2 separate regions of the Homo sapiens genome follow, and region 1 is linked to region 2. Evidence: fine-mapped expression QTL. A gene starts in region 2. The other region holds a variant in brackets. All regions are shown on one strand. Distances are between the middles of the regions.

Region 1 (4,530 bases), 850 kb before region 2:
CGAATGGGTAGAAATTATTGACAGTGAGTCTCACTCAGCATCTCGGGGCAAACTGCTCTGTGTTCTGTTTTGCCCTAGTTTGTGGAATAAGCCCTCATAAAATTCACATGCCTAGGACCTGTGGTTGCCTGTGGAATTATTTCATCCAACAATGAAATATTTGGATGGCTGATGTGGGCTACCAGCTGGCTAAACATTGGTGAGACTGGGTGTATTGAAATGCTCTCAGTAGTAGAAGTTGGCAGACAGTTCATGGAGATACCAACCGCTATGGCAGGACTGTGTCCAGCCAATAACGGGGAATATTATAAGAGTGAAGGCAAAACCTCAAGCCTACAATATTTATAAAGTGTTTTGCAATTGCAAATAGATTTTCTAGAGTCATTTTTCTCACACTTAAAAGTTTGCTTGTATATCTAACATCATCCATATCCTGATATAAAAGTAAATATTCCTTTAAGGAAACAATGGTGGCTTGTTCAGGGCCCCAGACCAAATTTCTGGAGAGACCATCTCACTGTTATTGTTTAAGTCATGTTGACCTGCGGCTCAGAAAATGCATTCTCAGCAGCTGTCTTTATTCTTCTTACATGTTAGCTGTCTCCCATGACAAGCCTTTAGGGTTACCAAAAAAAAGATGTATGTTGAAAACTCTTATTGTTTGTTTTTCCTGCAGTTCCCTATAAAATGTCAGTATTTTTGAAGAGGTTCTCCTTAAATTGAACCCCTGAGGCTGGAGATTTACCAGGTTGATTTAGGAGTTTGAAATCCTGGAGTGTTTCCATAAAATGAGGATTTACAGTTCATAAATATAATGACAAAAGTGTGAAGATACATTTTTGTCCTTGAAAAACTACTGGAACAAAAGTACTTTTCATAAAAGGCCCACAAGCTGCTATTTCCTTCAGACAGAGGCCTATCCTGGCTAGGAAGAGTGAAGTGGCGTTTTATTGCCACTTGTTTAAGATGGTCTCCCTCTCTGCTTCTTGGGGAGCCACTTTCTCCTGACAGGTACACAGGTGGACATCGGAATTGAGCACTGCGACATTTAAGCAGCGACAAGTATAAAGAAATAACAGGAAAACATGTTAATAGGTAGAGCACATTTCTTTTATTTGCCCTGTTCCTGCCTGGGTTCAGCTTCTGGATCACTATAGTCTGGTTGTGATCTTTGCTCTCAGATCGTTAGCTGAGTTCCTTCTTGCATATGGCACCAAACAACCTGGTTAATAATTGACATTAAATTATCTGCTGTGACAAACTGTTTAGGGAAAATATATGCCATGCTTTGGCTTTATAAAATGTTAAGGGGGGAACACTAAGGAAACTGTGTCACTAATGGACCTTGTTTTTTTGTTTTTTTTTTTTTTTGAGATGGAATCTCTCTCTGTTGCCCAGGCTGGAGTGCAGTGACACAATCTCAGCTCACTGCAACCTCCACCTCCCAGGTTCAAGTGATTTTCCTGCCTCAGCCTCCTGAGTAGGTGGGATTACAGGCGCACACCACCATGCCCGGCTAATTTTTGTATTTTTAGTAGAGATGAGGTGTCACCATGTTGGTCAGGCTGGTCTCGAACTCCTGACTTCATGATCCGCCCGCCTCAGCCTCCCAAAGTGCTGGGGTTAGAGGTGTGAGCCACCATGCCTGGCAAATGGACCTTCTTGATAGATGATAGAAATGGTGTGAGGCTAGCAGTTATGTAGCTCTGCAGAAAATGGCCTAGGTTGAATAGCAGCAGTGGATTCATGAGTTTGGGGAAAACCTCTGGATTTTCTTTCAATTTAGTTGTGAATTGAATTGACATAATTTTCAAACTTAGGATGAATGTTGGAGCTTACCCTGAGGTTAAAGAAGGGACAGCCTTCCAGATTTGCTTACTTTATCCCAATTCTTGGAAAGGCAGAATCATGTCTCCATTCTACTCTGACTAATTCACTTCTATAAATGTCTAGTAACCTAGAAGGAGGGAGGAAGTGTTGTGCCCACCGCACACCTACTTCCCTTAATGCTGATGTTTGGTTATAATTAGAAATAACTTTATATTGTGGAAAGAGCACTATGCCATGAGTCAGACAAACTAAGTTCTAGTCATGGATTCACAACTGATAATAGTTTCCTGAGCAAAGCAAGATACATTGAGATTGAAAGGGAGTATTATTAACACTTATACTGGTCCACAGGCATTAACCAGGACTGTTGTGAGGAAACTGGGATGTATGGCCATTCTTCTACTTCCTGTGTGTTTGGGCAAGATAATATTCTAAGGGAATATTGAAGGAACCGAAGTAGAATGGGCTCCTTTTGGTAGTCTTTTCCTGTAAACCAGCATAATTTTTAAGAAGTAAGACCTAATGTAAGGAGAGGGCTGTGTTTGAAGAGACATTAGGGAATACTGTAGATCCCGATGGTGCAGTTAAGCAAGCCTATAGCTGTGTATATTTGGCATCT[G/A]ACCAGAAATATACAGTTCTGACATTTTGGGGAATTAACTTTGCTGTTAAGTCATTGCAGCCCTGGAGACTAAAACTCAAGGACTCTTGGTCCTCCTCATGTCATAATTTGACGTTCCTTGGCCTAAATCTGGCGATCAGCCTCGGGCCCTCTGCCTCATTGTTTTTTGCAGAATTAGAAGGAATCAAGATACTTTCTGTAGAGCTCCTGCTACCACACTGACAACTGTGTTCATGGCCCATGTAGCCCAAACCTCTTCAGCCATCTGCTCAGCCTACTGGCCACAGTTCTGAATTAAGCAACTGGAGGCCAGTCATTAACAAACACCTTCTGTTGGCTTATACACCATGACCAAGAAACTTCAATTGGCAGTTTGAGGTCATACAAGACACTTAACTTGAATATGTTTTATGCAGGAAAATCAACTCATAGGTACTGCCATGTAAGCATTATACATATTGATTAAATAATATTAATGCAAGGTCCATGGGCAGGTTATATACAAAATGACTCTGTTGCCACATAAGGAGGTTGTGGCTGTATGAGCATCCCTTTAAATCATGCAACAATATTTTGGAATATCTTTCAAGTAGGTAACAGGGCTAATTAGGTCATCAACAAAGATTTGTGTTCCCCTTCCATAGAGTAAAGCTGGGTGCTAGGAGGCTGCTGTCCACCTAGGATCTAGATTTCCCTGAATATCAGGCATAGGTGGAGCCTAGTGTCTAGTTTCTTCACAGTGAAACATGAAGAGATATCTTTCTGTAGTCTTGTCTCCATATACCAGTGGAATGTGACTGTCTCCAAGACCCTGGAAGAAGAACCCTGGGTCCCTACATAATCATGTGAAAGGCTACTAGCCAAGGAAATTAATGTGTGAGAAATATAACTCTATTGTGTTAAGATTTGAGGGGTGATATGGTTTGGCTGTGTCCCCACCCAAATCTCATCTTGAATTGTAACTCCAACAATTCCCACATGTCATGGGAGGGACCCAGTGGGAGGTAATTTAATCATGGGGGCATGTCTTTATTATGCTACTTGTGATAGTGGGTAAGTCTCATAAGATCCGATGGTTTTATAAATAGGAGTTCCCCTGCACAAGCCCTCTCTCTTTGCCTGACACCATCCATATAAGGGACTTGCTCCTCCTTGCCTTCTGCCATGATTGTGAGGCCTCCCCAGCCACATGGAACTGTAAGTCCATTAAACGTCTTTATCTTCCCAGTCTCGGGTATGTCTTTATCAGCAACATGAAAATGGACTATACAGTAAATTGGTACCAGTAGAGTGGGGTGCTGCTAAAAAGATACCCAAAAATGTGGAAGCGACTTTGGAACTGGGTAACAGACAGAGGTTGGAACAATTTGTAGGGCTCAGAAGATGACAGGAAAATGTGGGAAAATTTGGAACTCTCTAGAGACTTATTGAATGGCTTTGACCAAAATGCTGATAAAGATATGGACAATGAAATCCAGGCTCAGATGGTCTCAGATGGATATGAGGAACTTGTTGGGAACTGGAGCAAAGGTGACTCTTGTTATGTCTTATCAAAGAGACTGGCAGCATTTTGCCCCTGCCCTAGAGATTTGTGGAACTTTGAACTTGAGAGAGATGATTTAGGTTATCTGGCAGAAAAAAAATTCTAAGCAGCAAAGCATTCAAGACATGACTTCGGTGCTGTTAAAGGCATTCAGTTTCATAAGGGAAGGACAGCATAAAAGTTTGGAAAATTTGCAGGCTGACAATGTGATAAAAAAGAAAATCCCATCTTCTTAGGAGAAATTCAAAGTGGCTGCAGATATTTGCAGAAGTAATGAGGAGCCCAGTGTTAATCCCCAAGACAATGGGGAAAATGTCTCCAGGGCATGTCAGAGGGTTCTTCATGCAGCCCTTCCCATCACAGCCCTGGAGGCCTAAGAGCATAAAATGGTTTTGTGGTCTGGGCCTAGAATCCCTGTGCTGTGTGCAGCCTAGGGACTTGGTTCTCTGTGTCCCAGCTGCTCCAGCCATGGCCAAAATGGGTCAATGTAGAGCTCAGGCTGTAGCTTCAGAGGGTGTAAGCCCCAAGCCTTGGTAGC
Region 2 (4,000 bases):
TAGAGAATCAAATTTGGCAACATAAATGAAAACATCTCAGAATGTAAAAAGTATCTAACCCATCACTTTCAATCATGTTCCATTATATACAGATGGCATTATTTATAGTGAATGTTAACTATTAACATTTCCCTAAAAATGGGCATTAATCTGCTATTAGTTGCTTGTTTCTGATCTAGTTCTCCTTTGTTGAAAGGTTTTACTTAACTGTATCATAAAGGGACAAAAGGGTAAAAGATAATAAGCTTTTCAGACTGGCAGATCTGTCACTTACAAAATGGCCTTGGGCAGGTTACTTGAACTCTTTGAAACTCAACTAGATTTACTCAAATTTAAGAATGAGAATACAAATCCACATCTTGAAGTGTTTCACAGAAAGGTCTATCTTAATGTCTGGAGTATATATTTCAATGAACATTCATTTTATTTTATTTCTCTCCATTCCTGAATCAAGCAATCTTGAATCTAAAGTTGCTATGATTAGCACTGAAAAGACCACTGGACTATTAATTGTGTGACTTTGGGACAGTAACTTTCTGCACCTTAGTTTGTTTACATGTTATACATGAAGGTTGAAGTCTGATTCTGCTCTGTGACTATCATTCTAAACATCTGATGAAATCAAATTTCAGTGTTTGGAATGGTAGTACAATAAATTTACTAAGAATAAATAATTCACTGCAAAAACACATTGATTTCCAAATGATGTAACTGACAGTTATATTACTGCAGAGGGCTGATAAATAACAAAAGAAATGAAAGATGCACATGGTGAGAACTGAAATTATCCTGACAAGTCTTCTACCTGTTTATCACTTAAAATCAATGACCATGCTGAATGCCTACAAATTACAAAATATAAAAGAAATCTTATAAATGCGCATGTACAGGAGTCTAAGTTACTAAAAGTTTTAAAGCATAAGTTTAAACCAAACTAATCAAAGAAGTTGAGAGGAAAAATTGGCTTTCATCTTTAATCACTACTGTTTTGAGGTCCTATGTTTAATATAATTTTCTAAGTAGAGGCTTCAGAGAGAAGAGTTGTGAGGATACTTTCATATTTGTGTAGAAGGAAAAGTTTGCCATCCATTCTAGTATCCCTAGTGTTATACTGATGTGCACCTTGGATTTATTTTGTTCCTATTGTATAAACTCATACTTGACTTCAAAGAAAAGGAAAATCCAAAGTCCCTCTTTTCTAAGGGGACAGAAATCCTTTGTGTCAACTGTTTGACCCTTTTCTCTGTAAGGTCCTATTGGAAATCTTTTGTAACACAATGCAGGGGACTCTTCCATGTGTTGATGCTGTTTACACAGTGGGGTGGGCCTGACTGAAGAAAAAAAATCGCATATACGCATGAAAGATTATGGTCTTATTTCCGGAAAGCATGAAAGGTGATTGATACTTCCAAGAAGTCCCTGTTACTCAGGAAAATTATCAAATATTCTACTCAGAGATACTTGGAAAGACTGAAGGAAAGGAAGAACGAAGAAAGCAGAATCTAGACTTATGTGGGGAGAGATTTGTGGCAGAGGAAAAGTATTCTCTTTGAATCCGACAAGGGATTTGCCTGGGGGAATTTCCTGTCCAGCCTTTTATTACCAGGGTCTTTTGAAGCCGGGCTCCCCATTGGGCAGTTCCCTGGGAGTGCAGTGGGGAATTCTTACACTTTCCCTCTAGGTCCCCGAAGGATCTCGTTTTCTCAGTGTCTCTTTCAGGTTGGCAGGAGCCTTGAGCCTGACACTTCCCTTTGATGGGACAGGCAAGCTCTGTGGGCGCGTAAACACGCTGTAACCAAGTTCTTTGCTGATTTTACAGTTTTGTGTGCTCCCGAGAAGAAGTGATCGTACTCAATTGTCTATTGCTGGCCTGCCCCCTAAGAGCCTGGGGGCTCCTTTCCCCTAACCCAGAACTAGCTGCACGGGGGGCGGGGAAATGGGGGTGGGGAAGGAGTGGGAGGGCAGTGGTTTCCGCGAGCAGAGCGATGTTACTGAGTGAGTCCCTGAATGGGGAGCGCTGCTGTCCCCAAGCCGATTGGTACTTCTTGTCAGGAAGAAACGCCAAGAGGTGGGAGTGCCTGGGGAGGGAGGCAGGCGGTCCCTACCGCAGGCGCGGGGAGCTGCCTTTCCGCCCCTCCGCCTGCTTTCCAAGCCTGGACTCTTAGGAGTGGCTGAAGCTGCGGAGCGCTTTTGGAGCCTGTGAATGAACCCTCCTCCTCTCCCTCCTCCTTCTTCTCGCTGAGTCTCCTCCTCGGCTCTGACGGTACAGTGATATAATGATGATGGGTGTCACAACCCGCATTTGAACTTGCAGGCGAGCTGCCCCGAGCCTTTCTGGGGAAGAACTCCAGGCGTGCGGACGCAACAGCCGAGAACATTAGGTGTTGTGGACAGGAGCTGGGACCAAGATCTTCGGCCAGCCCCGCATCCTCCCGCATCTTCCAGCACCGTCCCGCACCCTCCGCATCCTTCCCCGGGCCACCACGCTTCCTATGTGACCCGCCTGGGCAACGCCGAACCCAGTCGCGCAGCGCTGCAGTGAATTTTCCCCCCAAACTGCAATAAGCCGCCTTCCAAGGTAATCACGTTTCTTTTGTTCCCCCCTTAAAAAACAAAAACAAAAAACTTATAGAAAAAAACCCGCGAGCTTAGAAAAAAGAAGCAATTGGTAGAAGGCTTTAATTAAGGCAAAGAGCTGTAAGGCGAAGTTAAGAAAATGTAGGCACTTAAAAAATGCAGGTAACTTTCATAAGGGCTTTTGGGGAGAGGCATACAGAGGGACCTTGGTGTTGAAAAAGATTCAGACAAAAGAAACCCAGGGTGGGGTGGGGGGTAAAATGACTAACGGAATTGGGGGAAGGGAGGGAATAAATTGTAAAGAAATCATAGAAAAGTGGTGGGTTCTTGAGCTGGAGAGAAGAGAGGGACCTTTGGCACTTTGATTTTTTTGTTGTTGTTGTTCTTAACACGCTCGAGGCAAAAGTTTGAATGGGGACTACCAAGACTTGCCACAGACAAGTCCCCGAAGCCGCCTTGGTGCAGGCCACCTGGTTTCCCAGCCCCTGGTGTGTGGTCAGTGCCTGGTGTTCCTGGAAAGCCACTCCCGGGCAGCTCCTGACAGTGCGACCCGGCGCCCAAGCAGCCTGGGACCTTGCGCGGACCTGACCCCTTCAGACCGCAGGCAGTCTGGGAGGAGGTCCGGCCGGGGGAGGTGCAGGATCCCCGCCGTGTCTCTTTGACGACTTGGGGACTGTCACGGTTCTCTCCCGGCGCCCCTGGGTTCTTTTGTCCTGCACGCGGTGCGAAGGGGCCAGCAGGGAAGGAGCAGAGGATGGGGGGTGGGGTTGTTGGAGCCCCGCGGAGGTCTGGGAGGCCCCTGGGCGGGAAAAGCCTGTTCTGAATCGGCAGGGATGTGCAACAATTTTTCTCACCCTGAAGAGTGAAATAGGGTCTGTCGCTCCCATCTCAACAAGCAAACCGGCACCCAGAGCGCACTGCAGACAAAGGTGGCTCGGGGACCCGAATCAGGGGCCTCTGGGTCAGTCCTCTCGCCCAGACTACAGGAGTCCTCCGTTTCCTTACATATTCCCCACCCTCTCCTAGTTCTCCGCTCTAGTTGAGCAACTTTACTGGCAGGTCTAGCGGCAGCGGCGCGCGCGTGTGCCGGGAGCCCCGGGGGACGTCCTCGGCTGGAGCGCCCCACCGTCCTGCAGAGGCGTGGGCGCTGTAGGGCGACATCCCTGGTGCGTGCAGACCTAGGGCATCCGGGTTGTTCTGGCCCGCGGTCTGTGTCACTGGGCGTGGAGCGGTCTGGGTGTTAGGCAGAGGAGAGCGGGGTAGAAAAATAGTGTCATAGCCTAAACTATTTGCTCTCCAATCCAACTGCGTCTCGGCAAGTCCTGCATGTCCCTGGGAGATGCTGCGGGAAGGGGGAGAAATCTACACGGCGCCTGGAGAGTTGTCCTGCCGCGCGCACACCCGCGGCAGAGTCTCTCTGGGT

Alleles and levels. Positions count from the first base shown, and alleles are read on the strand shown. Sizes are in standard deviations (SD) of each study's normalised expression.
For the expression in cerebellar hemisphere of the gene that starts at base 2,299 in region 2, G is the low allele of the variant in region 1 and A is the other (small effect, 0.35 SD a copy in GTEx).

What was found. PIP is the estimated chance that this variant, and not a neighbour inherited with it, causes the effect.
Region 1: its variant is fine-mapped to the expression of VCAN in cerebellar hemisphere (GTEx, PIP 0.95).

The regions. Positions count from the first base shown.
Region 1 is chr5:82,622,216-82,626,745 of GRCh38, forward strand. No RefSeq gene overlaps it. Among named protein-coding and RNA genes, the nearest start is that of MIR3977, 220 kb to the right of the region's middle. The variant G/A (reference allele first, on the strand shown) is at 2,450.
Region 2 is chr5:83,469,446-83,473,445 of GRCh38, forward strand. VCAN (versican) reads left to right here and starts at 2,299. Exons shown (of 15, transcript NM_004385.5): 1 at 2,299-2,578. RefSeq lists an enhancer at 2,728-3,600.